Regions from separate parts of the Homo sapiens genome. Here region 2 is linked to region 1. The links come from fine-mapping of genetic effects on gene expression. Tissue or cell type: fibroblasts. Region 1 holds a variant in brackets; the other region holds the start of a gene. All regions are shown on one strand. Distances are between the middles of the regions.

Evidence for each region. PIP is the estimated chance that this variant, and not a neighbour inherited with it, causes the effect.
Region 2: it holds the start of NRXN2, and the variant in region 1 is fine-mapped to the expression of NRXN2 in fibroblasts (GTEx, PIP 0.99).

The regions. Positions count from the first base shown.
Region 1 is chr11:64,652,012-64,660,109 of GRCh38, forward strand. NRXN2 (neurexin 2) reads right to left here. Exons shown (of 23, transcript NM_015080.4): 12 at 1,685-1,711; 13 at 24-143. Among named protein-coding and RNA genes, the nearest start is that of NRXN2-AS1, 12 kb to the left of the region's middle. RefSeq lists enhancers at 1-211, 1,554-2,054, 3,016-3,175, 4,666-5,167, 5,168-5,667 and 2 more. The variant C/CGGGAATTTCACAATAAGT (reference allele first, on the strand shown) is at 4,373.
Region 2 is chr11:64,718,562-64,726,652 of GRCh38, forward strand. It overlaps NRXN2 (neurexin 2), which reads right to left and starts at 4,636. Exons shown (of 23, transcript NM_015080.4): 1 at 4,410-4,636. RefSeq lists silencers at 4,516-4,810, 4,797-5,096 and enhancers at 5,477-5,526, 6,736-7,574.

The DNA of each region.
Region 1 (8,098 bases):
CTCCCTGGGCCCAGACCACCTACCCTCCACAGTCACGTTGTCCACAGACAGCTGCAGGCTCTTGCCACGCCGGACCACCCTCACCGTGTGCCACTCATTGTCATTGAGCTTGTGCCCCGCAAACAGCGTTTCGGGGCCTTTACCTGCGGCACCAAGGGGGGAATGAGGAGGGCACCTATACATGCTCATAGGTGACTTCCTATATCACCTTGGATACACAGACAGCCTCCCCATCCCCGCACATGCCACACATGAACACATACATGACCAGTGGCTCATATTTGGCCACGCAACACACCCATGAATACAAGTACACACACTTATAGCCTCCCATCACACCTGGAGTCCATGCACACGCAGAGCTTTTATACCCCAGTCATACATCCACTCTCAGGACTGCCCTTTGTGTGACTTTAGGAGGTGCCATGCACATAGAATATTAAGTGAATGGTGCCTCTGGAGTTGTACCCTGAGGCCCTGCACACAGACACCCACACCTATGACCAACATACTCTTCCCCCAGATTCCTAAGGGCCTTCAGTGAGTGTGGCCAGAAGCTATATTCCCAGGGTGTAAACACAGACCTAAAACTTTCAAAACTTCACACAGTACCCAAATGTAAATGCGAGCCCACAGCTTCGGCCTCTGTTACACAGACACCAGCTCCTCCATCTACAATGGGACCCGATGGGACCTTTCTACATACACATGCCTGGTTAACGTCACACACCAAGTCACGCCACCACACGTACTGCCCATAAATATGCAGGATGGCCAGAGAGGGGAAGGTTCTGTTTCTTAGGAACTATGGCCATTTACTCAAGACCAGGATTATCAGCTTCCAGAGTCTAAAACAAAACATACTTATCTTTCAAATGCTGCTGGACTTTGCAGCACTCTCTGGTCATCCCTGCCCCCCCACCCCGAGGGCTCCAGCACGCACACAGCATGCCACACACACATGAAGAGCAGGGCGCCCAGCACACACAGTCTCTCTGCCTGGGCCTACCACGTGCATGTGCTCCCCCATGTGACCCCAAGCCACACCATGCAGAAACACCCTGAGACACAGCATTGAGCCCAGGCGCACTGGGATGTCTGGAGATGTCCACCTGCTCACTCTCCATCTCACCCCTGCTGAGAGCCCTCACTGTCACCATAGAAGGAGCCCCCATTTGGCAGAAACTCACCCCAGCTAACACAGGAGCTGAAGAGGGCTCCCTTCCCACCCTCATCCTCTTTCCTGCATCCCTCGCCTTCCCCCTTGTGGCCAATTCTGGAGATGCAGCAGCGTATTCCAGCCCCTCTCAGGCTCCTCCCTGCCAGTCCATAGGACCACAGGTGCTACCCAAGACTCTGCCCCAGCCCTTGATTTCTACCTCCTCCCCACCCTCCTGCTGACTTGGGTAAAGGGTGTCCTTGTCTCTCCCTTCCTAGACCCAGTGAACATCCTGACTGCAGGCCCTCCCCCAGCTCTCCTTGGCTCTGCTTCATTTGGTCCCTCCTGCCTTCCACAACCACCCAACCTCACCCTCCTGCCTGCACCCCTCCCCACACTCAAGGCCCAACCCCCATTCGAGCCAGCAATCACGGCTTCTCTTCCTCCCAGCCTCCCTCCCTAAATCCCAGCGTCCAGCATCCCAGTCCCCTTGGGTCTCTGCAGAAGAAGAGGGAAGCCACTTACTGGGTGCGCAGCCGACGCGCAGGCAGTCTGGGGGGGCCATGGGGCGGGCAGAGGGGAAGGGGAGACAAAAAGGTAAAACAAGTTTTTTTTTTTTTTACATCCTTCACAGGGAGGGGTGTCTGCGGGCGGGGTTCCCCCCAGGGCCACTTTCCGGGGACCACGCGTGCCCAGGTGCCCTCTTCCCTTCCTCAGTTGGACCCCTGTCCCTCCTGCCCCCAAGAGGGCTCCAACCCTCCCCAGAGCTGGAAGGCAGGGCAGTCAGATGATGGGAAGAGGGCTTGTGGCCCCCTTCTTAGAGGGTACCAGGCCTCTAGTGTCTGAGGGAGACGGGCACCTTGGGAATCCCAGTCGTACAGGGGATCAATGGGGGCCGAGGGCTTGACCAACCCCACATCTCCCCTGTCTCTGGGAGGGAGATGGGTGGGGAGAGCCAGAATCCCTGCATCCCCTGCTCTGGGACGACTCCCTCCTCAGAGCCCAGGTGTGACTTGTCACTCCCTGTTCCCCTCTGGGCTCTGAGCTAAATGGAGGGGTCTGCCCCAGGGCCCCCTTCCCGAGGCCATACACCTCCCAAAGCCCCAGTGGCTAGTACCACCCCTACAGGAACCTTCCTTCCACCCTTTCCAATCCTGGGAAATGCCAGGCTGCTACTGGGGATAGATCATGGGAGTCCTTCACCCTGAAGAGGACCTAGTATTAACCTGCTTTCCTAGTCAGAGGAGCCAAGGCCTCACAGATAGAGACAGTGCAGCCCCCAAAATATGATTTCTCTGAGAACACAAAGCAGTTGGGGACAAGCAGCCACCATAAGCAAAGTTTCCTGCCCCTGCCCCAGTCCGGTCCTGGCATTGCTATCCTCTGATTTCAGGACTGGGAAGGCCCCGTGTGGCTACACAGAGCCAGCAGCCCAGGGCCCTGAAGCCTCTGGCCATCCCTCTGGTTAGACACACCACCCAAAGGTGGGAGCCAGTCAGGTCTTGCAGAGGGAACAGTGGACCAGGGTCCTATGAAGTCCAGATTTAAGGCCTTTAGGATGTCTGCACCACTCCATCAAACGCCAAGCCTGACGCAGCCCAAGGGAGGGGACTGGCTGGAGCTGCAGAAATCCTTTACTGGGAAGCAAGGGAGCTGGGTCCTCATCTCCACCCTAACACTCACTAACTCACTGTGTGACCCTGGGCAAAGCACTTCTCTCCATGCCTCAGCTTCCCTCCATGTGAGCTGAGGGAATGGATAACAGTAGGATCCTGAGCAGGAAGTAGGCAGCAGGTAGACACTGGGTTGGCTTTGCCTTTCAGAGAGGGGCAGTCTCCCGGCCCTCGATTGACAGGCCCAATACCCTGGCCTCCTGTCGCTCCACCCCAAATAGGCTCTGCCTACCCCACAGCCCAGGAAGCAAAGGGGGTGGGCAGCTGCATCCCCTGGGCCCCTGAAGGTTCCTGCAGTGGAGGTAAACTGATGCCCCTGTGGCTTTGAGGGCCACGGCCCTTCGGCAGTACAGCTGAGCTCCACACGCGTTGTCAACCGCAGCAGAAGAGTGGAGGCGAGCAGCCAGGACCCTGGGCCACAGCCTGGCACCAAGGGAGGAGCAGAGGAGCAGAAAAAGGTCAAAAGGCAGACACAGAGGGAAGTGAGAAGTCTCAGTGAGAGGAATGAGGTAGAGAGAGTGCAGAGAGAAAAGAGGAAGAAAACGGAGCAGAGGAAGGAGCGGCTGCACAGAGGGGACAGGGGAGGCTGGACAGAAGAGGAAGGGGAGGACTGTTAGGGTGAGGGTAGAAGGGTGCCAGGCCCTGGAGTCAGGTCACGGGGGCTCTCTCGGGGCCAGCAGAGTCTTCACCAATGAAGGGTCCAAAAAAAGAAAAAAGGGGAGGCTGGATGGGCAAGCAGGTCCCCTACTGGGGAAAAGACCCAAAGAAGGAGCTTGATTCTTCTCCTTCCCCAGCAAGGGAGCACCAGGAATGGGGGGTCCATCTGTCCAGAGAAGAGGTGTCAGCTCCAGGCCCACCCCTGCAGAGACTCCACCCTCAGAAACACAGGCTCCAGTAGGGTTTGCAAGAGCAAACGACTTGAAGATGGGCACCCAGAGGGAAGCCAGCCCCATCCAGAAGAAAGCCAGAGACTGAGAGTGAGCAGGAGAAACCCAGCCTCTTCAACATACACATTCACCAAAGTTCAGGGGGCACTAACTAGTAACCTGTTAACTAGTGACCTGTGCCTCAAGTGCAGGGAATAGGCAGAAGTGAGTGGTCTTCGTGGCACAGACCCACGAAGGCCCTGGCTGGACAGAGAGAGCAGGGTCGTAGTATGAACACGTGTTGGGGAGGTAAGACAAAGCAGTCTGCATGGAAAGGAACTCAGGGGAAAGAACACTGGCTTCCCAGCCCTGCCTCACCTGGGTTCCTTCCCCGCCCAGGCCCTGTGGGTTGGAGACAGTGGGCCCAAGGCTCCCAGGCATCTGTCTCAGAAGTGACATCACAGAGTGGCAGCATGCACTCTGTCATAGCCCTCCTTCAGAGCTGGCTCCCAGCAGCCCCCCTGATAATTACTGATCAGCCTCAGGTGGAAAGGCAATGTACCCTCCCATGGCCCCAGGGATTAAAGGGCTTTGGGATACAATGTGTATTTAGCCTGATTTAAAACACAAACGGGAGTTAGATTTCTCCGTTTGATTCCAAGGGGCAGAACTAA[C/CGGGAATTTCACAATAAGT]GGGAATTTCACAATAAGTGGGAATTTCACAATAAGTGGGAATTTCAGAAGGGCAGGGTGACACTAAGAAAGAACCACTCAATGATCAGAATGGATCTTGGAGGTGGGAGGTAGAAGGCCTCCCACTGGTAGGGAGTGTATGGGTGATTCATGGGGTGGGGAGGGATGCTGAAGGAGGTAACCCCCTTGCAGCTCAGAGATTCTTTAATTACACCACACCCTTCAGGTCAGCTGCACTGACAGCTGGGACCCCAGGGGCACACCTAGTAGAGGACAGTGCCCAGCCTGGCCTGTCCTCTCCTCCCCTCCAGGGAGGGGCCCAGGCCATGCTGGGATAGGGCAAAGAATCCAGGGGACTCTACCATCCTCTAGGGACAGAGATCAACTCCCCAACTCAGGGGCTGCAGACAGCAGAGCTCAAGGAACTTGCTCAGTGTTTGCAAACATAGTGGGGGCTGGGAAGCTGCAGCAGGAGGCACGATAAGTTCCTTAGGATCCTCTGCCTGGAAAGAGGCAGCAGTGCCTTTTTGTCCCTCTCTTATCTAGCAAATATCCCATCTCTTGAGGCTAGCACTAAGCGATCCCACCTAGTGGTCACCCGCAGCCTCCGCTCCCTCTTCAGGCCCAGCCTGGGGCCTGTTTCAATCCACTGAGTGCCTGTGGAGCTGCAGAGCTGCCTCCTGGAGCAATAGCTTCCCTCTACAGGATAAGATCATGAGGCCAGAGACCAAGCCTCACCAGGCTTCTCTCTCTTCCCCAGTAGTGAGTCCAGCCCAGGCCTGGGGCCTTGGTGTTGCTGCCGGTCTGTGAGGCCCTGCAAGTCCTGGGGAGCAAGCAATGGGGGACAGGAATGGGGCTCTTGAAGTGATTCACGTGGGCCAGGAGGCTGAAGGAGGTGACGCCTTGTGGTTCAGAGATTCTTTACACTGCACTTTTCCCATCAGCTGCACTGACAGCTGGGACCCCATGGGCACACCTAGTAGAGGACAACTCCAGTCTGTCCATGCTATGTGGAAGTGGCCCCCAGGCCTGGCTCCAAACTCAAGTCTCTATTCCAATATGGTTTTGTTTTCCTTCAAGAAGGCTGGGTGGGTCTCTACTATGGGTCTTGCATCTACACAATGGTTTCAATGGTTTCATTCCCATTCTTCCATCTGAGCCTCAAAACCACCACAGACGTAGGCAGAGTGAAGATTCTTATCTCCATTTTAAAGATTAAAAAAAAGAGAGAGAGACTCAGAGATGGGAAATGACTTACCCAACAGTAAAAGATACCAAAGTTAGGCCCCAGGTCTTCTGGCCCGGAGCCCAGAACTCTTCCCATCCCAACCCAAGGCTTGGTGGCTGGGTAGGGGCCACCTGCGTGTCCACAGTGCCTACAGAGGAGGAATCTGTAGACGGATGCATTTGCACCAAGCCTTTGGTCACAGATTGTCAGGAGTCATGCTAGAGATGGCATCTCAGCACACACATGTCTACAGATGGGGGCAGGGGCACAGCCAGGAGTAAGAAATGGGTGGGAGGAGAGTCCTGTTATCTGTCAGTCTGGGAAGCCTATTCTTAACATGATGTGTCTTCCAAGAGGCCACCTTGTTATCTGACTTCTGAGCACTTATGTGGCACAGACAGAAAAGTGTGCCCATGGAGAGGAGAGGGTGGGTCCCAAGGGCCCACAGGATAGGTTTTCCTGACCAAGGACATTGTTTCCTGTCTAATCTTAAGAGACACAATCTTCTTCCCAGGGGCCTAGGACAGTCCAAATAAGCAAAATGCATCTGCCTTCCCTGCAGATCCAAGGCCCCAGATTTTTCCTGCTGTGTCCCCAGCAAGCACAGAGACATGTGTTTAGATGCAGACAACACACATATGCCCAGGCAAAGTAGGGGGGAACTCACACTGGATACACAAATCTGGGCAGACTTGGAAGTACAGAGCCACTTATGGGGTCCTTGGCTGGGGCTATCCTCTTGTGACAGTTTCAGGGATGCAAGGGAGCATTGTGCAGACTTGTGGAGCATTGACTAGAGTGTCTCCCAGCCTGCTTTCCCCTGCAGAGCTGCTGCACACCACCCGCTCTACAGGCTGTGATCGTGGTTAGAAACAGAGCTGAGGGGAACCCTTCAAACAACTCTGAGGCCCTGGCCACCTGCATATCTCCCCACCTCCAGTCCCCACCTCTCTCAGCAAATCTTTGTCCTAGGAATACAAAGGCCAGGTGGCCAAAAGGGGAAAAGGAAAGAACATAGTATAAATACATTTACAAGGCAATGGGTTCCCCAAAGGCCACAGTCTGTCCCACAAATGCCCCGGAGACCAATGTTAGGATGAGACTCCAGATGAGTATTTAAAAGTTCAAAGTTCAGCCAGGCACAGTGGCTCATGCCTGTAATCCCAGCACTTTGGGAGGCCGAGGCGGGTGGATCACGAGGCCAGGAGATCAAGACCAGCGTGGCCAAGATGGTGAAACCCCATCTCTACTAAAAATACAAAAATTAGCCAGGCGTGGTGGCGGGTGCCTGTAATCCCAGCTACTCGGGAGGCTGAGGCAGAGAATCACATGAACCCGGGAGGCAGAGGTTGCAGTGAGCCCAGATCACGCCACTGCACTCCCACCTGGGTGAAAGAGCGAGACTCCATCTCAAAAAACAAAAAAAATGGTCAAAGCTCTGTATTCTCTCCAGTCGAGGATTCTAACCTGCTCAGAAGAGCCCTGCTTCCCCTCTAGGTCCAGGATACAACAAGTGACCCTGATGACCTGCAAGCTTCCTATACGGCTGGTGCTACACCTTTATAAGCTTCTAGAGGCCAGTCTGAAATGGACAGATTTGACCTCAGCCTGAACAGCTTAGGACCTCTCATTCCCAGGGTTCCCCTGCTCTGAAAGCTCCAAAGGGGTGGGGACTGCTTATTCACTGCTGTAGCCCCTGGCTTGAACATACCTAGCATTTATATGGTGTCCCATAAATAGCTGAATGAGTGAACCTGCTGTTTTCTTTTTGCCCTGACTAGGAGAGCTGAAGCCCGTGAGAAGAACCTAACAGGCTCATGGTCTGGCCCTCATGGACACCCCGGGGACCACCAGGTGAAGTGGAGTCAAGGCCTGCTCTCAACCCTGGGCATGGGTGGAGACATGAGTCAGCATGAGTGGCCTGAGGGGGAGGGTCAGCAGCCCTGTCCGAGGCAATGGGAAAAGCACTGAATTTTAAGGCAAATGGCCCAGGTTGAGTCCTGGCTCCTCCCTCTGCCTTCACTAGTTTTGTAATGTTGAACAAGTCAATACATGAATTTCATAATCTATAAAACAGGGACAGTAATGCTTGTTTGGTGATCTAGTGTCTTCACAGGACAGCCATGAGGCTCAAATGTGAAAGCTCATGGCACTAGAAACGGGAAGATGGCACGTCTGTGTGTCCAGTGTACACACATGCACCTCCACACACCAACACACAGACTGCTGTTTAGACTGAGCAGAGCAGTGGGGGGCAGCTGCGTGCATGGACCAGGCCTTCCTCATCTCTGTATCTGCCACCACACTGAGCTCAGGCTTAGCACCCACTAGGCGTCAGCAAGTGCTTCTCAAATGAATGAACCAATGAATGAGCAAGTGGATGAGCCATTGACCAAAAATGAGCTGTGTCATCTGTGTGTGTGCAGGACAGATGCTACCAAGATCCACATGAGTCACCAGGGAGGACAGTTAGCATACCCCAGATACTCTGGGTCTTG
Region 2 (8,091 bases), 67 kb after region 1:
CAGTGGAGTAGGCTGCCTCGGGGGGTGGTGAGTTCCCCGTCTGTGGGGGTGTTCGAGGTGAGACCGGATGACTGCTGCTCAGAGAGGCTCGGTGTGGGGGAGGCTCTTGAATCATATGGAAGAGGACAGCAGACTGCTTGACCCCTGAGGTCCTTTTCAGGTGCAGAATGTTTTTTGGAGGGTCCCCTTTCCCCCGTGAAATTCCAGGCAAGATTGGCAGACGGTGAACAGTTCCTACCTCCCCCTTCCTTCCAGCCGTGATGATCTGGCAGAAAAAAGGGAAGACCCCATGCCTTTCCACACCCAGCCACAACCTCAGCAGCAGCAAAAACAAGACAGCACAGTGGTTAGAGGCACTGGCTCTGAAGCCTGGGTTCAAATGCCAGCTCTACCCCTATCCAGCTGTGTGACCTTTGGTAAGTTACTCAGCCTCTCTGTGCTTCACTTTCTTTATGTATAAAATAGAGATAATAATAGTGTTGTCAAAATTAGAATTAACATACATAAAGCTCCTAGTACACTGCCTGGCATAGACTAACGTGTGAAAAAAAAGTGTGTCGTATTAATGATTTTTTTAAAACTTCTCATCTCGGCCTTTTACAGTTTGCAGTACCGAGTGCCTAGTGTTTCCTCTGATCCTCACCAGGGCTTGGTGAGAAAAGTAAGCAAGACAAGTATTATCACTGCCCCTTTTACAGATGAGGAAATAGATACTCAAAGGGGAGAAGGGACCCACCCAAGGTCCCACAAATCATAAATGGCAGAGCTGGGATTCAGATTTGGTTCTGTCTAATCCCTATCCCTCGTGTCCTCCTCAACTCTGCTGGTCAATTGTCCTGACTCAGAGGGCAGTAGAAGGAACAAACAGGTCTAAAGATAAGTCGGAGTCCCATGCCAGGGTGGGCTGGGCATGAGCGGCCATGTCTGCAGGTCGCCAAGCAGCTCTCTGTGTCATGGAGAGAAGCATGGAGCGGGCTGGGCCCAGGAGCTGGTAGCTCGGGGTGCACAGGATGAGGCTGCTGCCGCCTCATGGAGCTGGGGAAGCGGGTGGGCTGGGGACAGAGGTGCAATGGAATGACTTGGTGGAGTGGGGGCCGGAGGACAGGTGCATGGGAGCATGGAGGTAGGTGGTGGGAGGGATGAGCACCAAGCTTACCTATGCTGTGCACAGCTGGGGCACAGCAGCCTGGGCGGGTGCACCCCAGTGATGCAGAGGGGGACAGATGGCTTCCAGGGGCGGCCTTGTGAGTAAGCATGAGGTGCCTGGGAATGTTCCTAAAGGTATCTATGACAGGTGTGTGCGCGTGTGTGTGCGTGCAGGGAAGGTTATGATAATGACAATAAAAATAGCTACCATTTACGGGGACCTTCTATGTGTCTTACAAATACCTCAAAGTAAGGTTTACAGAGTGCTTCGCACAAGGCCAGGCACACAGTAGGTACACAATAAACATGCTTGTTACTACTATCATTGCCATCATTGTCCTCTCAGTGAGTCCTCATAACATCCCACTAGGTAGGGATGAGGATCCCATTTCACACGTGAGGAAACTGAGGCTCACTGAGGAGCACAGCGGAGTCCCACCTTCACCCTCACCCCACCATGCCAAACAGTGGTGGTGGCAGTGGGGAAGCAGCTTCGTAAATAACAAGGTGCCACACACATCCTTGAAAGTGTGCACCAGACTATTTGTTGAATGAGTCTCCGAGAGCCCACAGGCCCATCAGTGTGGAAGGGGCAGGGGCGAGGGAGCTGCACCAACAGATGGAGCAGCAAGGTGGGTGGCGTGTGAGGACACACAATCGGGGCATCCCCGTGGGGGCTGGGCTTGGGAGCTGCGAATGAAAGGACAGTGTCTCCAGTGCACAGGCAGGTGTAGGGGCCCTTGTGCCTGAGGATTAATGCGGGGGGTGGGGCCACTTAGAAATGGGAAGGCTCCCAGGGAAACCAGGTGTAGGTGGGGGCTGGACTCCACTGGGAAGGGTCGTGGTTGTGGCCAGGAGGGGTAGGAGGCCCTGCGCCGAAGGTACAAAGATAAGTGAGTGAGAGAGAGAGAAAGTAGAAGAGAGGTTTAGGGGGTGAGCCACAGCATTAAGTGTGTTAGCAAACATGTGCTGGTGTGCACACACACGTGCACACACACAAAGGCCTGGGGCAAGGTGTTCAGCACCCAGACAGACATGCACATGGTACTTCAGGATGAGCTTGCTGGGGGGCAGGGACTGGTGTGTCTGGGAGGGTGTGCCCACATGCTGTGTAGACCTGGGAGGGATGGGGTGTCTGGAAGGAGAGGGTGTGTTGCAAGGACTGAAGGTGTATGAGGAAGAAGCACAGGTGTGCCTGCGATGGCTGTGAGCCTGGGGAGGTGAGTGGTTGGATGGGGGCTGTGTGCATCCAAGGGTGAGGGCTGGCAGTGCTGCGCTGGGGGCTCTGGGGGCACGTAGTGGCCGTGTGTGTGTTGTGTACATGGCAGCAAGGCACCTGGGGGAGGTCTCAAGGAGGCAGGCATGAGGTGGCAGCCTCTCTGGGTGGGGAGTGTGGGCTGTATGCTGCCAGGAGGTGTATTGTGTACGCAGGTGTGTGTGCCTGTGTAGGTGTGTGTCTGGGTGGGTGCCACCGAGCGCGTGTATCATTGTCAGAGTGTCTGTGTCACTGGCAAGGGTAAGCGGGAGGGAGCAGCTGGACCTGGGTAGTGACTGAGCCTGGAAGGAAAGAGGGGTCCCCACCAGCCACTCGCGCACCCAGCCCCTCCTCTCAGAACTCCAATGTCATATGGATTCAGCCCAGGCCTGGGCTGGAAAGAACTGCCCGGCAGCCGTGGCTGGTTGGTCCATCCCGCCCACCCCTGTGGATCTGAGGATAGGATGGGTCTGAGAACACTTCCTCTAGCATGAATGAAGAGCCCCCAGCCAGACCCTTCTCCCCTGTCTCCCAAAAGATCCAGCCACACCTCAGATGCCAGCATCCCTAGAGCCATCCCTGGAAGCAAGAGGAGGTAGGGACTGAGGGGCTGAAGCACCCACAAAACAGAAGGCCTCACAGTTAGCAGACTGCAGACCTCCCTCCCCTTCTCCTTCCCTCTCCCTTCTTTCTTTCTCCTTCTCTGGCAGAAGACAGAGAAAGTAAGACCCTAATGTCCACCCTCCTCCAAAAGGAACACCCAGACACTGGGAAGGTAGACAACAGGGAAGGATAAGAATGAATGGAAGAGGAGAGACGCCCACCCGCCAACACATGAAAAAACAGGGCTATCTGGAAGCCCCCAGGGCAGCCAAGGGACTGGGGACCCAAGACCCACCCCCTAAAAATCTATTTCATTATTCCAGGTGGACAGCCTCCTCCTTCACCTCCAGACACCAAGAAAAAGCCCCTCCCAGCCCTTGCTAGCTCAATGAGGCATCGAATGCCCTCTCCCAAGATTCAGGAGGGGGGTGAGAGTAAAGGAGACAACAGCACCCCAAAGCCAATTGTGCCCCAAAAGCCCATCAAGGGTTCAAGGGCTCATACCCCAACCCAAAGACCCCAGGGAAGATTGCTGCTTCAGCTGGGGGAGGAGGCTGGGACATGAGAAATGGTCCCTTCCTCTTTAGGGGTGGGGGAGCAAGCCAAGGGCCCTGCAGCTTCCTCTCCCCCTGCAGCACTCTCTGACCAGAACCCTGTCACCGCCCCCAGCGCATTCCCACCCCAGCAAAGCCCCCTCCTACTGATTTCCCAGTCTCCCTGTCTCATCACCCCCAGCCTTCCCCCGCAAGCTTCCGCTCCTCTCCCTCAGACCCCATCTTTCCCAGCTCTCCACCAGCACAGACCCATCTCTGCCTGGAGCACCTTGGCACATTCCCCTCTGCTCTCTCCCAATAACCTCTTCTCCCCTTGGCTCCCATCCCCCAGGAAAGCCTGGTCCTCAGTGGGTCCCCTCAGGACGAAGCCCTTGGCCTGGCCCCTTTCCTTCCCTCTCCACTTCTCTCTCTTCTCCAGCCCCCTCTCCTCTCCTCCCACGAAGCCCAGTTTCTCGCTGGTTAGACCCTCCAGAACACAACAGCTCCTCTGGCCCGGCGCTGCTTCAAGCCTCTGGGGCTAGCACAGACTGGGGACCCCCCTTTAAGAACCCCCTCTAAGTCCTCTGGATGCCCCTCCTCTCTCCATCCCTTCCCCCAAAGACCCTTCCTCCCACCCCTCCCCATTCTCCTCAGCTCTCAGGGCCAGTGCCCCTTCCACAGGAGCCTCCGACCCCCAAGCCCCCAGCGGCTTTGCCTCCTCGCTGTCACCGGGCCAGCCCTCTCAGCGCGGCGCCCCCGCCCCCCAATTCATCCGTCCTGCCTCCCTCGCCCCCTCCGATCCGCTCCCCTCCCCCGATCGGCTCCCGCCCCCCGCCCGTCTCCGCCGCAGCGCCCCCCCCCCCCCATTTTACCTGGTTCTCGGGGCGCCAGAAGCTGGAGGGTGGGTAGCAGAGCTACAGGGCCGCCCCGTCTCCGACGGGTGGCAGAGCCAGGGCTAGCGGTGTCTGCCGCCTCGCGCCTCTCTCCCTCCCCGCCGCGTCCCCGCCCGCCCGCCCGCCCCGCCGCGGTGCCTCTCCGAGGAGGATGCTCCGCGAGTCAGGGCGGCTGCTCCCGCCGCCGCATCCCTGCAACACCGACTGACGGCAGCATCAGCACCAGTGCCCGCCCCCGAGACGCGCGCATTGGACCACGCTGCGCTGACGGGCGAGCAGCGCAGCCAATGCAAGGGCTCAGAAGCCGCCAGTCCAGCGGCTCCACAGGCCCACTCCCTCCCTCGCGCGGGACCCAGGCGTCCCGGCCCCAGCACCCGCGCTCCTCCCAGCCTCTCGAGGTTCTCGGGCGCCCGGGCCCCCAACCAGGCGGGCCCCAAACCCGGCCTCAGTGTCTTTTCCGGGAACCCAAGCACTCTCGCCCCTCGCCCCTCGCCCCTTAGTTCGGGGCCTTGGGTCCCGCACCCTCCCCCCACGGCCAGCAGGTCTTCGCGCAGCGCGGGGCTGGGACAAGCCGAAGGAGAGGCTGTGGACCCCGACTTGGGACGCCGCGAGAGCAGGGCTGATGCGGGGCCTGGGCCGCAGCGCCCTCTGCTGGCTACCCCCAGGGGCGGGCCCGGGCTTCGAGGAGCCTAGAGAAGGGGGACTCGGTGGGTCCATGGCTGCTGGGGGCTTTTTCCAGTCGGTAGCCTGGCCCCCACCTCCCACCGTCCGGAGGGCCCCTGGCTTGGAGCCCCCAGAACTGAAGAGGAAGGGGCTTTGCTGGGATAAAGACGGAGGCGGTGGGGGAAGGAAAGGCAGAGATGGGGGCGGGGTAGACCTAGGAACTTGGGGGTTTCCCAGTCCTGCCTCATGGGAATCCCAGAGTTTGAGGCCAAACTCTCAGTTCTGCCTGGAACCCTGGACCGAGGTACGAGTAGGTGTGGGGGCAGGGTTGCGCCTGCACATGCCTGGTGACTGAGGGCACCTGGCAGCAGCCCCCTTCTCTGTTCTCCTCCTCCCATCCATGAGTTTCAGTTAGAGTGGTGCTGGGGGGCGCAGGTCTCTCCTGTAAGGGTACATGCATCACTGTGCATGTGTATGAGTGTGGGGGACTGGGGGACACCCTTCACTCACTCCGCCAATAAAAGTGTACACACACTGGCACTTAGTGTGTATACCCCGAGGTTGGTCACTGGGCTGCTGAATGAGACAGTGAGAGACAGAGTGTGTGTGTGTATGTGTGCCAGACCATTCTGCCAGCTCACTCCAGGACCCTGGTTTCTGTTGCAGGGTCTGTGATCTGCACAGCTGGTGGTAGTTGGCACTTCCTTAGCCAGAGGCAACATGCAAGAACACTTACATTCAACCACCAATGCATGGACATTGGGGCACTCACAGCCATGCACACATATCTGTGAACACTGGGCATTCCCAGAGACACATAAGAACACCTGCAGAAATGCCCCACCATGGTAACACACCCACAGGAAGCATATACTGCCCAAGAACACACACACTTGTGCACACAGGTACCTACACCAGGCAATTAATGCATGCCCAGAACAGCTGCACCCAGGGGACCTGCCCACAGTCATCCTGGACCCCTGCCCAGGCACTTCAAAGAGAGTGGTCAATTACTGAGTGGCTTAATGCGGACACCAACCCCCCGGGTGGGAAACTCCTTCCCCAGCCTGTGAAGGGGTAAGAGGGGGACCCAGGCTGCAAGGAGTTTTTCCTAGGAGTCGAGAAGGGTGATCCCTAAGCCAGGTCCCAGACTTAGGGCCCACTCTGACCTTGGAGAGACCCCCAGGGCATCCCCACCAAAGCCAATGAAGGAGCCAGAGAATGGAACTGCTGCGTCAGGGCCTATGAATGCGAAATCGCCTCCCTGACCCCACAGCCCACTTTCCTGCCCATCCCCCACTGTTCCTCTTCCTGCAGCCTCCTCACACTCACACACACACACACACACACACACACCCCTTGTCCATCCAGGCATCAGGGCATAGACAGACAGATGCAATGGCTCACAGAGACAGACTCAGACCCTTACAGAGGAGCCTGGGCAGGGAGGGAGGTAAGTATGAGCACTTGTCTCCTTTCCCTACCCCCAGCTTTGCCCATCAAGGGCAGAAAAGGTCACCGGGCAGCTGCTGCATCTCCCTGTCCCTCCCACCTACAGGGACATCTCTCCTCTCTGCAAGGTCCAAGGTTCAGATTGCCTAAGCATTTGGGACCTGCCACTTCAAGACACACCCCACACACACACACACCACACACAGGTACCCACCCAATGTGGACAGTTGAGTGATATGCTGAGCACATGCCCTTCTCCCATGTGCAAAGGCCAGTGGGGACACATGGGGGAGGGGAAACACAGCAGATACAGCATGCATGTCCATGCACACACATGCACACAGGCGCATACAATGTGAAGCTCAGACACCAAATTCAGACACATGCAACCATGAAGACCGCTACTTGTCACATCCCGGGCAGGCAGACCTGGACACACATATGCATGCATGCATACACACACACACACACACACACACACACACACACACACACACCAGGAAGAGGCCAGACTGGAACTGGAGGGTAGTGACGAGAGGAGCCAAGAGGAACCGACTGGGCTGCAGGGATGGAGGCAGCACAGGAGGCAGGCGGCACAGGAGCGAGCTGCTCTTCACAACACAATCGCCGTCTGTTGTTATAGCAACTCAGCCCCCAAATCGTGAAACGGATATTACAGCCTCAAGAGGGGGAAGGGCGGAGGGGGCTGAGGACAGAAGGAGGGGCAGGGGGGCACCCGATGCAGAGACAGGGCTGGGGGGCCCAACACAGGGTAGGCCTGCAGGAGAGATATGACCAGGAAAGAGAAGGGAGTGACCCAAAATAAAGAACAGGCCAGGGGGAGTGGGGTCTCAAAGCAGGGATGGATGTGATGTGGGGAAACCCTGGGGTGGGGGACCGGGGCACTCATGGGGGAACTGAGGCCACTGCCAGGCCCACAGATACTGTGCTTTGGAGTGGAAGGTGCTCAGGTCTCCACCCCTAGGACAATCCTACAGCTGCTGTGGGACACCTCCCAGTTTGGGGGACTGAGGAGGTAGTTCCCATTGTCAGGACTGCTGTCTGGAGTCTCCTGATCCCAGGGGCAGCCCGGCCCAGCTTCAGAACCTTTAGTAAACTCCCAGACCAGCCTCAGAAGTGGCCTTAGCCTTCTTTAGGTAGCAGTGACCCCCAAAACCTCCGTGCTGCAGGCTCAGGAGGGAAGAGCTGGGTTGGGAGAAGCCACCACCGGAGGCTGAAAGCAGGATCAATATGCATTTCCTCTGGAAGTCACTGTCCTTCCGGCTGGCAGCAGCACCAGGCCAGGAGGCTGCAAGGCGGAGGAGTGCAGCCCCCACCCTGAGGCACAAGCCCAGCAGGGCCCTCGGACTGCCCAGGGCCCTCCCTCCCTTCCCCGACAGCCAGCAACTCTGTGCTGCCCCTCTCCCTCCCACGATTCCTGCAGTGAGGGCCCTGTTACTGGAAGCGTCCAAGCAGGGGCTGAAAGGCCCCCTGTCCAGCAAGGGAATTTCGGCCATGGGCTGAAGGCTTTGGGTATGCATGACTG